Regions from separate parts of the Homo sapiens genome. Here region 2 is linked to region 1. The links come from fine-mapping of genetic effects on gene expression. Tissue or cell type: B cells. Region 1 holds a variant in brackets; the other region holds the start of a gene. All regions are shown on one strand. Distances are between the middles of the regions.

Region 1 (8,109 bases):
CAGATTTCAAGCTTTAAGACCAAGAGGGTCAATTTCAAATTTCTATGTTTATCCAAAAGACGGTAAACACCAGTTCTGTGAGACAATTGGCCGGTTTCAGTCCTCTATTTCTACTTATCAGTTCCTCAATCATGGGGAATCTGGTGGTTGATCTTTCTGACTGCTTTATGCTGAGGAAGGGCATTATATGATACTGATGAGGAATGAAAATGTTACCCCTGTAATTGGAAGTATTCATAAGTACCTGGTCAGCATCTGACTTGTTGGAACACCAGGACCTGGATACTTTAATGGTTTTAGAACAACATTTTAAGTCACATTGACTAGGATGATTAATAACATGGATAACCTAAATTTTAAAACACCAAAGGATATGGAGTGGATCCCTTGGGGAATCCAATAAAATAATCGCGAAAGCTACATGTTCCCTTTATGATTTTTTAACTAGGGTCTTTCACTGGACTTTAGATATTAAGGCCATCTGAGGGTTCACAAGACCATGACTGATTCCCTGGGAGAGATTCCAGAGGGACTGGTTTTACCCGAGTATAGTGAATCCACGACTTAGCACCAGCTAACTTGACAGATGAGTGAGTGATCAGCAGCACCTCCAAAGGGCTGACCCATTGTGGTTGCAGCTCATCTACAGCTTGGTGGGATTTCCAGGTCTTCAGCAGGACTTGGGATCTCCCAGTTTCAAAAAGTGGAGAGGTACATCTCTAGGGAACTGAAGCCTGTTGGAAGCAAACTTAGAGACTAGTTAATATATTTCCTAATTGTTTTATATATGACCTAGCTTCTGTGTCAGAGGAGGAAAAATACTAAAGTGTCAAGGAGTCTGGAGGTTAGAGAAATGGTCTTCCATACATTTTGGAGGCTCTAAAAGCCAATCCACTTTTAGGGGCTACCCACATCCTCAGCAGGGCAAGGGACAAGACCTTTTCCCAGTTAAGATTTATCTCTTGGCAACTGGGGTCCCCTTGGCCACAAGTGGGCCTACTCAGTCAATGGGGGGCTTAGGAATTTATTTTGTCCCATAGTGTTGCCAAGGTGGTGTGGCTACATGTTTTAGGTCCATCTCATCCCTCAGTGGGACCTCTATAGCCAAGGGACATAGAGTCAAAAGACTAACAGCCAATTAAACACTGTAGACCAGACAAGAATGGAGGGGGGCAGGCACTCATTAACACTTAAAACCCTTTAAGCAACATAATAGCCAAAAACTAAAAGCCAAAAAGTAAGGTTACAGAATTGCTTATGAATCAAAGGAATTTCCTTTGCCATTTAAGAATGGAAGCCCAGTTCCCTGCACCCCTGCCCGCCAAGCTGAGTTGTATGTTCAGCATCGGCCTAGAACAGTGAGATCTTTTGAAGGTTACATAAGGACACATACAACCACCACAAAAGAACATACATAACTAATTTTATTTGTCAAAATTGGCCCTTACAATCTCATGTGCCTGCCCCCCTTCTGCAATAGTTCCTGGGCCTAGATGGATTGGATAGTTTTAATTCCTGGCCCTGTGTCTCATGAAAGCAGTTCATTTTGATTGCTGCCTTCTCCTGGGTCTAAAGATGAGGCTTTGACTGGTGTCAATGTTCAAGATTTAGCAGGTATCGGCACCTTTTTCAGACCCAGGAGTCAAGACCCTGTAACTTAACAGCACAAGGATTAGTTAATAGGATGCTTATCAAAGAAATTAAAAGACTTGAAACGTTTTATTAAAACAGAATCACAGGTCATTGTAAAATAACAGTTATTCATTTAACCAAAAGTGATCATCAAAAGGCTTTAAAAGCAATATAGAAATAAAATTACAATAAAGGGGCACTCTACCCATAATATGCAGACAGACTACTTTGCTGTAAAATAAGTTTCTATCTACAATATAAATGATCGAGTATAATATATGCATTTATGCTAAAAACAGAAGCCAATGTTTAATGAAACATTTAAAGACATAAAAAAAGAACATTTAGAAATTAGTGCTTCAGTTTACTAATACTGCAGAAAGTCCTATTATTCTCTCTAACATGTCACAAATTAAAACACTGTGATTTGGTCTCCAGTAGTTACTGCCTGCAGCACTTCAAACCACTGCCCCAGAAATACACTGACTACAGAGGAGGAGACAGCCCCTGCAGGAGTTAAAGATGCCAAGGACAGAATAACTGTGCTAGAATGTGCTAATGCCACAGGCACACATAACTGTCAGCTTACTGTGGTAGGCAAAAGCTTGCATTTTTGTTGTTTTCAAGGAGTGAATTTCTTTTAAGTCCATTATTATGCTAACAATAAGGCATGGATCGCTAGCGATGCCTTTTCTGATTGGTTTCACAATTTGTACCAGCAGCTTGTGCTCACTTCAGGGAAGCTGGACTGGGTGACCATTGCAAGATTTAGTTATTCCTTGACAATTGTTTTGCTCGTTCCTCAGCTGAAATTCTCATTAAAAATAATGTTTATACCATGTATTTCCCCCAAATGTGACTCTATTAACTCAGCCATGTGACTGGGGTATCCTTAACTCACTGAAGAGTAAATATTTAAAAAAAAAACTTTATCGAACAGCATGCTAGTAGCAATGAAGAAAGGTATGGGTGTGGAAGGTTTTTAAAAGGAGTTGGGCATAAATGATACCATATATACTGTTACTAATGCTTGGAAAACAGTGACTAAGGACACAGCCGTGCATGCCTGGCACAACCTCTGGCCTGTGATTATGCTCAGTAATGATGAACAATCCAGTTTTTCATTCATTAACCAGTGGTGGAAGAGTCAACATGATCCTGAATAAAGGTGATATGATCATAGCAATGATGAAGATGACATTATTAACACTGCAGAAAAAGTGCCTTTAGATGATATGGTGAAAATGTATGATGGGCTTATTGGAGGACTAGAGCAGTATGCATTCATAACAAATAAGAAATAAGAAATCATGTCAGTTTATAAAATCAAGAAGAGAAAAACTGTTGTTAATGAGACAAATTACTCTGGAGGAAACACTTTAAAAAGTCATCTAGCAGAATGCCTCCTCATCCCTAAAGGGCCTACTTCCTGGTTTCTCCACTGCTTGTGGTATTTCTTCTCACCTAAAAAATAAAATACAGTGTACAGTACCCATTTTAATGGAAACACAGCATCATACGTGGAGATTGAAAATGTGGTATTGTATGTTGTTGCTGTTGTTGAACAGCTGACACAGGAATTCTGGTGGTGCTACTGTGCTGCTTAGTTACTTGAACACATTATGTT[T/G]TCACTGTATGAATGATATGTCATATTTTTTACTGTTAAGTACTTGTGTGTAAACAAGTGTAAGAAAGTGATTGCTTATTCGTAGCATATAAATTCAGAGTTAGGAATAATGGATGCCAAACAACCACAGATTATCCACATGGATGGCTGAGATAGTGACACCTTTGCTTTCTGATGGTTCTATATACACAAACCTTGTTTCATGCACAAGATTATTAAAAACATTATATTGGCCGGGCACAAGTGGCTCATGCCTGTAATCCCAGCACTTTGGGAGGCCAAGGTGGGTGGATCACTTGAGGTCAGGAGTTTGAGACCAGCCTGGCCAACATGGCAAAACCCCGTCTCTACTAAAAATACAAAAATTAGCCATGTGTGGTGGTTTATGTCTGTAATCCCAGCTACTTGGGAGGCTGAGGCAGCATCACTTGAACCTGGGAGGCAGAGGTTGTAGTGAGCCAAGATCATGCCACTGCACTCCATCCTGGGCAACAGAGTGAGACTCTGTCTCAAAAAAAAGTATAAAATTACCAAAAAATAAAGTGATTAGGTTACTCCTTGCACATATCTAATTGGTAGCATTTTAGTGATGGAACTGTGACCTAAAGCATCAGAAATGTTATAGGTCCTATGGCAAACATATCTAAGTAAGACAATTAACTTTTCTCTCCATCATTTAAAAAATGGTAAATGCAAATATCAGTTTTGGAATTCAGTGTGAGGATAAATAAGTTCCTTTCACTCAAATATTATCCAACAAAACAGGGACAGAGTAAGAACAGGTACAGAATAATTTCTTTTCAGCTATTTTAAAAGAGTATCATCACACATTTCCATGATTGGTTTCTAGATACAGTACTGACAACTGATTCAGTAACTTTCACCACTGGAATCTTCAAACCACTGCAACACTTGTACATATTTTGTTTTCAGGCACACATATGAGGGCCTGACAGTGATAAAAGTCTTGGGACCAAATATCACTAGAAAGCCTCACATTTTTATTATTACTGCTTAATCCAAGTGAATGTCATTTAATTTTAATAATGGTAAATGCAACTAAAGTAGTCTGAGAGAAATAGCAGTGAATGTAATTTCCTTAAGGACAAGGCCAATCTTTCATGAACATTAAAACTTTGTACACATATCACGATTTTTCCTCAATACCTGAAGGAAAAGATCTGAAACCAACCCAAATTATTAATTGAATTGAATTAACTTGGAGATAAACACCATTTAAACACTTTCAACTACATTTCCAAATAACAAACCAATGTACTATTTCTGTTCAGAACTTACAAAAATAAATCTTTTATTTGATTTTTTTTGCCAGGAACCTTAAAGCTCTTATACCTCTCTAGATCATGAGAGGTGAGCAAAATCAATCAAAGTTTAAGTGAACAGTGCGTTCTATCAATTTTTAGAGGCTTAATAAAGTAGCTTAGTAATTTCAGATAAATAGAGCAAATGATATATTTTTGGAAATGCACAGGAAACACAAGACTATTCATAGAACCAAATGAAAGTTCTCTATTAGAAACTAGACAGCATATATATATATATATATATATATATACACACACACACACACACACACATATATATACACATATACATACATATACATATGTATATCTTGTATGATAAATTTTTGTCCTAAGTAAAATGGTTACTTATTTTAAAAAGAAAAAAAATTACAACAAAATAGAATGTCTAAGCATGTAGGTATGTATATATACATACATATGTGTAGGTATGTATATATACATACATATGTGTAGGTATGTATATATACATACATATGTGTAGGTATGTATATATACATACATATGTGTAGGTATGTATATATACATACATATGTGTAGGTATGTATATATGTATATATAAGTAAAACCCAAAGGAGAACAAATAGCAAAATTAAAATGAAAAGCAAAAACAAACAAGAAAACAACCCCCAGGTTTTCTCCTACTCAGTTCACCTTAAAGGCTCCAGCATTACCCAGAGCCTAAAAAAAACACATGAGGGATATTTTGTTCCTGGTATACAAATTAATGTCTTTAAGTCCACCAATACCAGTATAGATTTTATGCAATTAAGAAATTCACTTTAGGCACATGACTAGTAAGTACTTAGTGTTAGTACTGTCTATGCAGCATAGCAAATACATTGTGAAGTAAAGGAATGCAAACATTTATGTGAAATTTGGCTCCATGTTAAATCTGGCTTCATGCTTAACTACATTGAAAAAGAATGGCCAAACTGCCAATGTATTTCTTTACAATATTTCCTATTTTACCTTAATCAAAATTAAGAGCTTTAACTATGAGCAATGTTAGCCAAATTTCTCCATTTTTTATTAGGTTTTAACAAATATTTTATTATCTAAACTTTTTAAACTTTCTATTTTCTTTGTATGTGCATGAAGATAGACACACAGAGAACCAGAAAAAAAAAAACACAACTGTATATGATTTACACAGACCATCCATGACATGCTTGGACATTCTATTTTGTCCTAATTTTTTTCTTTTTAAAATAACTAACCATTTTACTCAGGACAAAAATTTATTTTACAAGGTTCTTTCTCATATGAAATTATTCTTTCTTTATAAACTTCCTTATTAAAAATACATCTTCATATCCACAACTTTCTTCAAATCTCTCTCCCCTACTTATTGGTTTCTTTCTACCTTGTTTCATAAATAACCTTTTCAAGTCCATAATTTGAATAAACCTTCAGACAACTTCCGAATTAAACATAATTATTCTTTTTCTTAACAGGAACACATCTTCTTTAGCACATTTTATATACAGAATTATCTATTAACTATACTTCTTATTCTTAGTAACCATAAATTTTAGTGAAAACCAAGGAAGCAGAAAATCCTGAACTATCAAATGTTAGCATTTTCTAGATGAGAACCATTCCACACTTTAAAAAATTGTTTCCCCATGTCAGAATGCTTTCACAATTGAAAGTGACCCAGGCATCCAATGAGCATCCAAAATGATCTTAAGATTTTAAGTTACACAAAATGTTCACATACAGCATTTATCCCATTTACATTTCATTCGTTTTTAGCAGTTTATCTACATAACTTATGAGAACTGAGATATTAGACAAAGCTAGTCGTCATTTCATTTTTATAACCTGTGCATAGTAGGTGTGCACCTAAGTAAGAATCTTTAAGTTAAATACATGGGTATTTTTACCAATAATTCAGAAGATTCAGCTGTGAAACCAACAACATTAAATTGGTCTTATTTGTCAAAAGTCACACAAACAGAGATCATTTTGGTTTTGGCTAGATTTATAGTTTTATAACCTTTCGTGCCAAATCCTGACACCTCAAAGTATCTAGCATGGACAAATGTAAAATCCAGACAAAAATGTATGCTGACAATTTTAAAGACATTTCTATTTTTATTTTACCAATAATTTTAAAGCCAGCTTGTTTATTAAAGAAGATATATTCAAGTCATGTGAACTTGAAAAATGCTAGGACATATTTATTTAACTTATGTGCTCCTTTAATTTAAGCACTCTCAATTATAAGCCAATTTGGAAGACACAACATATAACCTAATAAATGTACATACAAATAAACACATCTAGACATGTATATACATGCACAAAGTTCCAATGGCTTTTACCTTGGAACTCTAGCCATAAGATAGCAATACAAGCTCACTAGTTTATGAACATTTTCACATTGCTAAATTTTGTTTGCCCTGGTAGGTAATCCAGTTATGGTTGTGAACCAAAATTTGGAGTAAAGCAGTTTCCATGGCATTTTGATTTTTAAAGGCCAAACGTCTTTAGACTCCAAAGAACTCCAGGGCCAAACAGTACCACAGAAGAACATCACGTATTAACCAGGCCTGATTCTGCTTAGAACAACAGCATAAAAGCCTGAATACATGAAATTCTATCCTGCTTTCTCATTCAACAACAAAATGAGACCCATGGAGAGGTGAAGCTGTTCCAGACTCCAAAGAATAGTGGGGCCAAACAGTATTATAAAAGATGATTTGTTTATCAAATTCTGATTTCCTGTGACTATACTGACACACACACACACACACACACACACACCATCACCAAAACACAATCCAACTGCTGTACCAACCAACAAGCCCCAAGAGGGCCCAAACTAAAACAGTAGGGGTGCTTCCTCTCTCAGTCAGTTGGGCTTGTTCAACCTGCACACAGAAATTCCTTCAGAGTTTCCCAAAATGAGAGGAGCAGATCCTGCTGTCTAGTATTAGTGCTGGCAGCTGCGGAGCCAGAGAGAAACTGAAAGTTACCTCCGGCTAAAAAAGGGATGGGCAGCTGCTTAGGAGGGCTTCTGAAACTCCTGGCCCACAGCAACTAAGCCATGAGCAATGCATTCCCAGTTAGGGAATCAAAGTCTGTTACTGAAATGCCAGGGGTTTGGACTAGGTCCTGCTGCTGGCCACACAGACAGCCAATCACCAGGATGATGAATTTTGCCAGGGAAGAAGGCTGTAGTCGGGTGCAGCAGCCAAGGAGATGGGAGATCAGTCTCAAATCCATCTGTCTGACTGACTAAAGTTAGGGGTTTATATAGCAGGAAGAAATGTAACTACATGCCAGAAAACAGGAATTACAGAGGGATAAAGAAGAGGAGTTGGTAAACAGGCATCATGATGGATGAGGGGTCTGGCATCCCATTGTTTGGATGTGGTGATCTGGTGAGTTTAAATTCCTTGAACTATCTGGGAGGCCCGAGGGTTGGTTTCCTCAGGAAGAAACTCAGATAAGACAAATGCAAGTTTCAGGCTTTAAGACCAAGAGGGTCAGTTTCAAGTTTCTATGTTTATCCAA
Region 2 (8,109 bases), 440 kb before region 1:
CCTGTTTTTGTTTTGTTTTGTTTCGTTTTGTTTGAGACGGAGTCTCGCACTGTCGCCCAGGCTGGAGTGCAGTGGCAGGATCTCAGCTCACTGCAACCTCTGCCTCCTGGGTTCAAGCGATTCTCCTACCTCAGCCTCCCAAGTAGCTGGGATTATAGGCATGTGCCACCACGCCCGGCTAATTTTTGTATTTTTAGTAGAGATGGGCTTTCGCCACGTTGGCCAGGCTGGTCTTGAACTCCTGACCTCAGGTGATCTGCCCACCTCGGCCTCCCAAAGTGCTAGGATTACAGGCGTGAGCCACCACGCCCAGCCGATACCACCTCTTAATGTAAGAGTGGCAAGGTTGCACTGCAGAACAGCATGCCACCCTGTAGAGACTGGGGTTCAGGATGCAGATCCAAGATATTGCTGTGGCTGCTGATTTTGCTGTGAATAATAAACTGTCTTTGTTTCGGATCCAGAGGCTTTATATTTTCTCTCAGAGTGTTAGAGTGTGGTGATCAACTAAATTTTCAGCTTGCTAGTAGGGTAAAATCTTAGATTATAACAGCTTCTGACCTACTACTGTGGAGTACCCTCCTTGGAGTGTGGCTGTGATTTGTGCATGGATTCCTATAGCTGAATGGGGAAGGGAGCTGAGCAGGTAGGGGATTACTTCTCTGGATCATTCATCAAGAGCAATGCTTGGGTGCTCTATTGCTGCACAAAAAATCACCCCAAAACCTAGTGGCTTAAAACCATAATTCATTAGTTTTCAAAAATCTGTGAGTCAATTGTATGATTCATCAGCTTCATGTGGTGTTGGCTAGGCCACCAGAATGACTGAAAGGCTTGAAATGGCCTCACTCACATAGCTGGCAGTTAGTGCTGGCTTCTGGCCATGCTGCCTGGGGAACTCAGCTAGGGCTATTGGCTGAGAGCTTTGGTTCTCTTCCATATGGGCCTCTCCCTGTGGCTGCTTGGGCTTCCTCAGAGTATGGCAGCTGACTTCCAAGAAGGAGTATGCACAGAAAGCAAACTGGAAGTTGCAAATCCCTTAAGGGTTAGCCTTGGAAATTATACAGCATCACCTCTGCTACATTCTATTGGTCAAAGGGGTTACAGGGCCAGTCCACATTCAAGGAGAAGGTAAACAGAATCCACCTCTTGATGTATGAGTGGTAAGATCACCTTGCAAAAGAGTGTGTGGGATGGGGGATATTATTGCAGCAGTCTTTGGAAGCACAATCTATCAAATGGACGTAGATGGGGGACTATACAATAGTATTTCTCCAAGTGCAGCAAGCCCCGCATCAGAATCATGGGAGCATTTGCTGAAAATGCAGACTGGGGCTGATTCTTGCACACTAACATTTGAGATCTGGTGAGCTGCAGAACAAAGCCCAAACTTCTTGGCCTACCACCAGTCCAGATCCTCACTTATCTTGTCTGACTTTATGCTCCAGTAACACTCGATTTCTTGGCATTCTCTTGCACATAATAAGCTATTTAACCTACAGATAGAGTTTGGATGTTTGTGCCGTCCAAATCTCATGTTGAAATGTGAGCCCTAATGTTGGAGTTGGGGCTGAGTAAGGGGTGTCTGGGTTGCAAACTGGATTGTGAACATCCTGAAGGTGGACCCCTCAGGAAAGGCTTTGTGCCCTCCCCGTGGTAATGAGTGAATCCTCGTTCTATGAGTTCATGCAAGAGCTGGTCGTTTGAAAGAGTCTGGTGCCTCCCTCACCTTTCACTTGCTCCTTCTCTCACCATTTGACATGCCTGTTTCCTCTTCGCCTTCCACCATGATTGTAAGCTTGCTGAGGCCCTTACCAGAAGCAGATGCCAGCACAATGCTTCTTGTACGGTCTGCAGAACTGTGAGCCAAAATAAACTTCTTTTCTTTATAAATTACCAGGTCTCTGGTATTCCTTTACAGCAAAGCAAAACAGATTAATATACCTACTAATCCACACCTTTGCCCATAACTGTGCCTTCTGCCTGGAATAACTTGACTCCTTTGCCTCATCAAGGATTTACTCATCTTTAAAGATTCAGTTTTATGTCACCTTTTTGGGGAAGTTTTCCTGACCTCCTCTTCTCCTATGGATTGGGGTAGGTGTTCCACATCCTGTGCAATTGTCCCCATTATAGCACTTGCCAACTTGTAATGTCATTGTTAATTTGTCTGTCCCCTTCACTGGATTGTGAACATCTTAGGCAGGGATATGTCAGATTCATCTCTGTCCTCTAAATCCTAAGTGTACTTAACTGAATTGGAAGTATGACAGTGTCACAGTGAATTCCTCTTTGGCCTAATGTTTCTTAAAGAATATGGTACTTAAAATATGCTTAAAGTTGCACTGTTTTCTTTCTGACAATTCTCAGCACAGCTAAGATGCTTGCAGCTACTTGTAACAAAATACCCAACTAAAAGTGGGTGTCTTAGTGTGCTTAGGCTGCCAAAACAAAATACCATAGACTGGGTGGCTTAAACAACAGAAATTTTCTCACAACTCTGGAGGCTGGAAAGTCCAAGATTAAGTGTCCAGCAGGGACCTAGTAAGGGCTCTGTTCCTGGCTTGCAGATGGCCACCTTCTTGCTGTGTACTCACACGGCCTTTTCTCAGTGTGTGCATGTGAGTGCATGAGATCAAGCTCTCTGGTGACCCTTCTTAAAAAGCACCAGTTCCATCAGACTAGAGCTTGGCCCTCATGACCTAATTGCCTCTCAAAGACCCCATCTCCAAATACCATCACACAGGGAATTAGGGCTTCAACATATGGACTTCAGGGGGATGAAAACATTCAGTCCATAACAGTGGGTTAACCATTTGATTTAATAATTTTAGAAAGCCAGCAACCTGCAGTCGGTGATTCTCCAGTGTGAGATAGGAGCTATTATTGTCTGGGGATCTTCCTTTCCTTCCTCCTAGCCCTCCTCACTCTGTCATCTTCTTACCCCAGGCTCACCTCCTCTTGTGCGTAAGATGGCTGTCGGGGCTTCAGGCATCATATCCTCAAAGTTCAGTTTGAAGTTATTAAGCTGGTGGGGCAGGATGGGTCTGGGATGGGCATGAGTAACTCCCTGTCTGCAGATCTGCCTTTTAACAGTGAGCAAATTGTTCCCTTTATATCTTCTTTTCCAGACCTGGGTCGCAGGCCTCCTGTCTACACCCAGAGCAATCACAGGCAAAGAGGCTTAATCACGAGCCACACACCCACTCCCAACTTAATCAGGGGTGAGGTGAGAGGGGATGAGCTGTTGGATATTCGAACCCAAACAAAATGAGCAAGGAAATAAATCTAGCCCAGAAAGCAAATGTCCTAAATGCCTCACCAAGATATTGGCTTGATGTTCATAGCAGTGATTTTTTAATCAACAGAAGTTAAATGTTACTCTTAACATAAACCATGGGCGGAAGCTCCGAGGGCGGCATCAGAACACTTGGTTGCCCTACAGATGGCAAGGGGGTGGGTTTGTGGCGGGGCGGCGGGGTGCGTATGGAGGGGGAGAGTGGAGGGAAGAATGGGGTGGGGAGGAATTGCTAAAATGCACGGAATTGCTCCTGCTTCAAGATGTCAAGACCGAGGGAGCTTGAGCTGTTCTATACCTTTTCCGGGAAGGACAACTGAGGTGGGAAATCATTTTTGATACTTGAATGTCTTCAAACTTCTTTTTACACCCCACGTCTCTGCAGTCAACCCGGTGTGACTATAGAGTGAAGCACGCTACGCATAATCCGTTTGGGGATTCCGAACCCCAGTGGCTCTGTACGCACCCAGGTCGCTGGAGCAGGAGGTCCCAGATCCCCGCTGTAAGGCTCCGTGGGCGAGCGCCCAGGTGGGGCTGGGCGAGGTGGGGGTTCCCGGCGCCGGCCCCGCGCGCCGCCCTCCCCGCCCCCGCTCCCGCCCCCCGACCCCCGCGCGCGCGGCCTTGTGGGTAACGCGGGGCCGCCAGGTGACAGCTAATGGCGGCGGCCGCCTGAGGCGGGCGGGCGGTATAGAGCGGGCGGCAGGAGGCAAGCAGCGAAACCTTCCCGGCCGCCGCTCCCGTCCCGACGGCGGCTTCCCCAAGGCGGCAGGACTCGGCGCGCCATGGACAGGCCGGCGGCGGCGGCGGCGGCGGGCTGCGAGGGCGGCGGGGGCCCGAACCCGGGGCCGGCGGGCGGCAGGAGGCCTCCTCGGGCCGCGGGGGGCGCCACCGCCGGCTCCCGGCAGCCCAGCGTGGAGACCCTGGACAGGTAAGCGGGGCCCGGGCTGCCCCGGCCTCCCGCGCCCCGACTCCCGAGGGCCCCGCGCGAGGCCAGCCCGCCCCCTCCCCGCGCGCTGCGCAGGGCCTGGCGGTGGCGGGGTGGGCGGCCCCTCTTCATCCCCTCTGGGCCCTCCTCCCCCCCACCCCCGGAAACCTCAGCGCCCCATCCGGGGACTGCTGCCCTCGGACCTGCTGCGGGCCGCGCACCTGGCTCACTTCCGCCCCGAGAGCCCCAGCTCCTGGAACCCCGGGAGGGGCTTCGCAGCTGTCAAACCACTTCCGGCGCCGCCACCTGCTGCCCTTGGCGATCGCTTGGCTGTCCCTGCCCAGGCCACCAATCCTCTTGGGAGGGAGATCCCACCCGGGCTCTCCTCTTCTAGCATCACCTTGCCTCGTGTGGTTTTAAGACCCCAATTCTGCTGTGGCTGCTTAGGGTCTTTGATGGGGGGTTGGGAGTGAGGACGGGGAGATGGGACCCCGCGGGCGTGGGAGCTGGTGCAGATCGAGGCAAAAATCTGAGATGGAAAACGTCCAAACTGCTCAGGAGGCAAGAAAACAGAACCATTTACTTTCAGTTCTTCACACTTTGAGGGAACCAGTTTATTGTTTTCATGAACACACAAGCAAGCCTACTGCTTCTGAGGCAGCTGCAGAACTAAGAGAAATCAGTTAGAAACATAAAGTGACCGTGTCGAACTGGGAGGGGCCACCGCCTCCTCCGACGACAAGAGATGGCCTATCGTGTAACCCGGAACATCCAGTTTTCCCACAACTTGGCCATTTCCCTGACACCAGAGTGCACTCAGGCAGCATGCACTGTTGGAATGTAGCTCAGTCAGTTTTACATGCCCATTCCTGCCTGTCTTGGTCATCCCATTGTGCCAAACTTTTGGGAGTTTCCAAAAGCACAGAAACAAGAAACATTCCCTTCACTTTTGTTTCTACCTCAGTGTAATTACAATATATTTTAATAAATTAATCACCCAAGTGGTTAGTGTCACTGAAAACCAGTCACAGCTAAGACAGCACTTGAAATGGTGAGGACTTCACTCATCTGCAAATATTCAACCACACACGAGGTCTGGGCGATTCAGAGAATAGCACAACACGGCTTTTGCTGCCTTACCATTTTGCTAGACTTACCATCTAGTGGAGAATACAAACCAACCAACAGTGGAAATCGAATGTGATAAATGAGATAGGTGGTAGAGGCGAACACAGAAGTACTCAGGATGGGCATGCATCAGAATCATTTAAGAAGCCAAAGGAGACCAGAATGTGTCACCCCCAAATATGCCTCATCTTCTGGTTTCCTTCAGAGATTTTGATGATCAGGGAAAGCCTGAGAAAGCTGACATTTGAGTAATGCCCCCAAAGAGGCGAGGGATCCAGCCATACAGATACCTGGGGGTGATAGTATTCTAGTCAGAGGCCTGTGCAAAGCCCCTGAGGTGAATGTGAGCCAAGTGTTCCTAGATCAGCGAGGAGACTAGGTGTCACTAGCAGGGAGGGAGCTAGGGAGAGACAAGTAAGGGATGACGTTAGAGAAGTCACAGAGCCAGATGGTGGAGAGCCTCAGAGGCCATGGGGAGCCACTGGGGACTTTGTGCAGAGGAGTGACATCATCTGTTGTAGATTTCAGTAGGCTCTCCATGGTGCTATGTGGACAATAGAGTGAAAGGGGAAGGAGCTGAAGCAGAGACTGTCAGTAGGAGGCTATTGTAGTAAGCCAAGTGAGATGGTGGTCCAGAGTGGAGCGGAGGAGGGGAGAAGTGGTCAGATACTACATGTAATTTGAAGACCTGCAGGGTAGAGCCAATGGGGTTTGCTGAAGATTGGTTGGTTGGTATGAGAGAAGAATCTGGGAGAATTCCAAAATTTTAGCTTGTGGGAAAATTGTGTTGCTGAGATGGAGAAGTCTTTCTAAGGTGGAGCAGGGTTAGAAAATAGCAGGCTCTTCGCTCTGGACATATCAATTTTGAGATGCCAATTATATGTCCCAGAATAGATGTCAAAGATATAGTTGATCTATCTGAGCCTGGAGTTCAGGGTTGTCTGGGCTGGAGATTCAAACTGGGGAGTCATGGGCTTATAGATGAGGCTTAAATTCATGAGGCAGGTGGAGTTCACAGAAGAATGATGGAGGTCTGGAAAAGGGAATTGGGCTAGGAATAGGGCTGGGTGGATTTTCAAGATGCTTACCAGGTAAGAGTGACCCGACATGGTGAGCATTCAGATGTGAGGGGGGAGTGCCGGGTGGACTCCAAGGCAAACCTCAGCTTTCTAGCGTGTGGGGGCCGGATAACTGGCTGTGCTGCGCCCTGAGTTAGGAAACACAGGAGCAGAGTAGGTTGCGGGGCTGAGCGGCTGATGCTGGTTTAGACAGGTTGAATTGGCAGGGTCTCTGGGCCAGACTAGTGGACAGGTCTTGTAGGAACATCAGCATTGAGATCAGGAGAGTCCAGGTTGGAGAAACAGAGCTGGGAGCCTCCAGCCTGTAAGTAGTTATTGACACCAGGAGTATAGAGGGCAATTGCACAGACTACAGAGAAGGGATGGGGGAGGAATCATGGCCTCCTTTCTCAGTTCTGTCAGCTCAACAAGCTCAGATTCACACTTTTCTTTGAAGAGTGACCTCTAGAATGGAACCTGGCTCTATGGGTGGGACTTGGCCATGTCCCTGGGACTATGGGGCCTTCACTTCTCTTCTGAATACTGTAATTAATAATGAGGAAGCTGTGGTCCTGTAAGAGGATGTGTCTTGCCAAAGATCATGGAGTTAGCTGGTGACAGAAGCAGGACTCATGTCCAGGCCTCCTGTCTGCTAACCCACTGTGCTTCACTGTGTGTAACTACATTGGCCAGGATGCTTCTGGTTGCAGGTGACAGAAACCACAGTTCAATCTAGCTTAAGGCAAATGAGATGCCCTGGCTCACAGAACTGCTCCAGACAGGAGGAGAGATGGCCACAGGCACAGTTGAGGTCAGGATTGCAAACAGTGTTGTCGGGACTCCCCATCTCTCTCTCCCTCTCTCTTTTATTTTCCCTCACTTTTTAATCGCTGTGAGTTCCTTAAGATGGTAGGGGTGGGGTGGGGTGGGGAGTGGCCTCCAGCAGCTCTGGATACAGATCCATGTATTTCAGGATCCAAGGGGAAAAGTCTGGGATTGGCTGGTCCTAGGTAACTCACCTACAAGTGGGAGCAGGTGGAGGAAGGGGTCAACCTTCTTCTCCGCTTTCCCCCACAGAAGCCTGTGTTGTGGGGAAGGGCAGTTCCCAAAGTAAAGAGGAAGGTCTTTATCAGAAGAAGGGGGAAGGCATGCCGGGCAGGCAGGTGGTAATAGCAGGTCACACTCATGCTCAGCAGTTGGGTTTCTGCAGTTTCTTCCTGTATTTGCAACTGGTGGGTGCTGACAGAAAAAGGCATTATGACAAGAAAAGTATGATATACGTGGGAATGAAAGTGACTTAACCTTTAAAAAGGAAACAAATCTCTCCCTTTTCTCTCCTTCTCCCCCTCAGGTCGAAATTGTGGTATATAGATTCCTGGCATGTGATAGGAATTTCTGCTCATTCAGTATTTTCAACCATACAGATAACCTCTGGTCTGTTTTGATCAGAGACTGCAATTTGGATCACTAGCACAGAACTTCAGTTTTCTTTCTTTTACTATTTGGGTCATTTTCCATATTGCCTGGGGATTCCAGGTGTTTCTGTCCTTCAGATATGTGAGTGTGGGTTTAATTAGTGATATGATTTTTTTTTTAAAGGCCTGAAACATTCTTTACAGTGAAAGCTACCTGCAAGGTAAACTTTTGTCGGTGTTTTTAGCCCTCTAGCTTGATTTCTTAGTGTTTTGCCAAATTGTGAG

Alleles and levels. Alleles are on the strand shown, and positions count from the first base shown. SD is a standard deviation of normalised expression in the study named.
As copies of T replace G in region 1, the expression in B cells of the gene that starts at base 3,946 in region 2 goes down (moderate effect, 0.52 SD a copy in Fairfax 2012).

The links. PIP is the estimated chance that this variant, and not a neighbour inherited with it, causes the effect.
Region 2: MTMR1 starts here. The variant in region 1 is fine-mapped to the expression of MTMR1 in B cells (Fairfax 2012, PIP 0.95).

The regions. Positions count from the first base shown.
Region 1 is chrX:151,130,012-151,138,120 of GRCh38, forward strand. No RefSeq gene overlaps it. Among named protein-coding and RNA genes, the nearest start is that of MIR4330, 34 kb to the right of the region's middle. The variant T/G (reference allele first, on the strand shown) is at 3,260.
Region 2 is chrX:150,689,451-150,697,559 of GRCh38, forward strand. MTMR1 (myotubularin related protein 1) reads left to right here and starts at 3,946. Exons shown (of 16, transcript NM_001306144.3): 1 at 3,946-4,226. The coding sequence starts at 4,081. RefSeq lists silencers at 3,877-3,946, 4,257-4,396 and enhancers at 5,290-5,389, 5,410-5,489.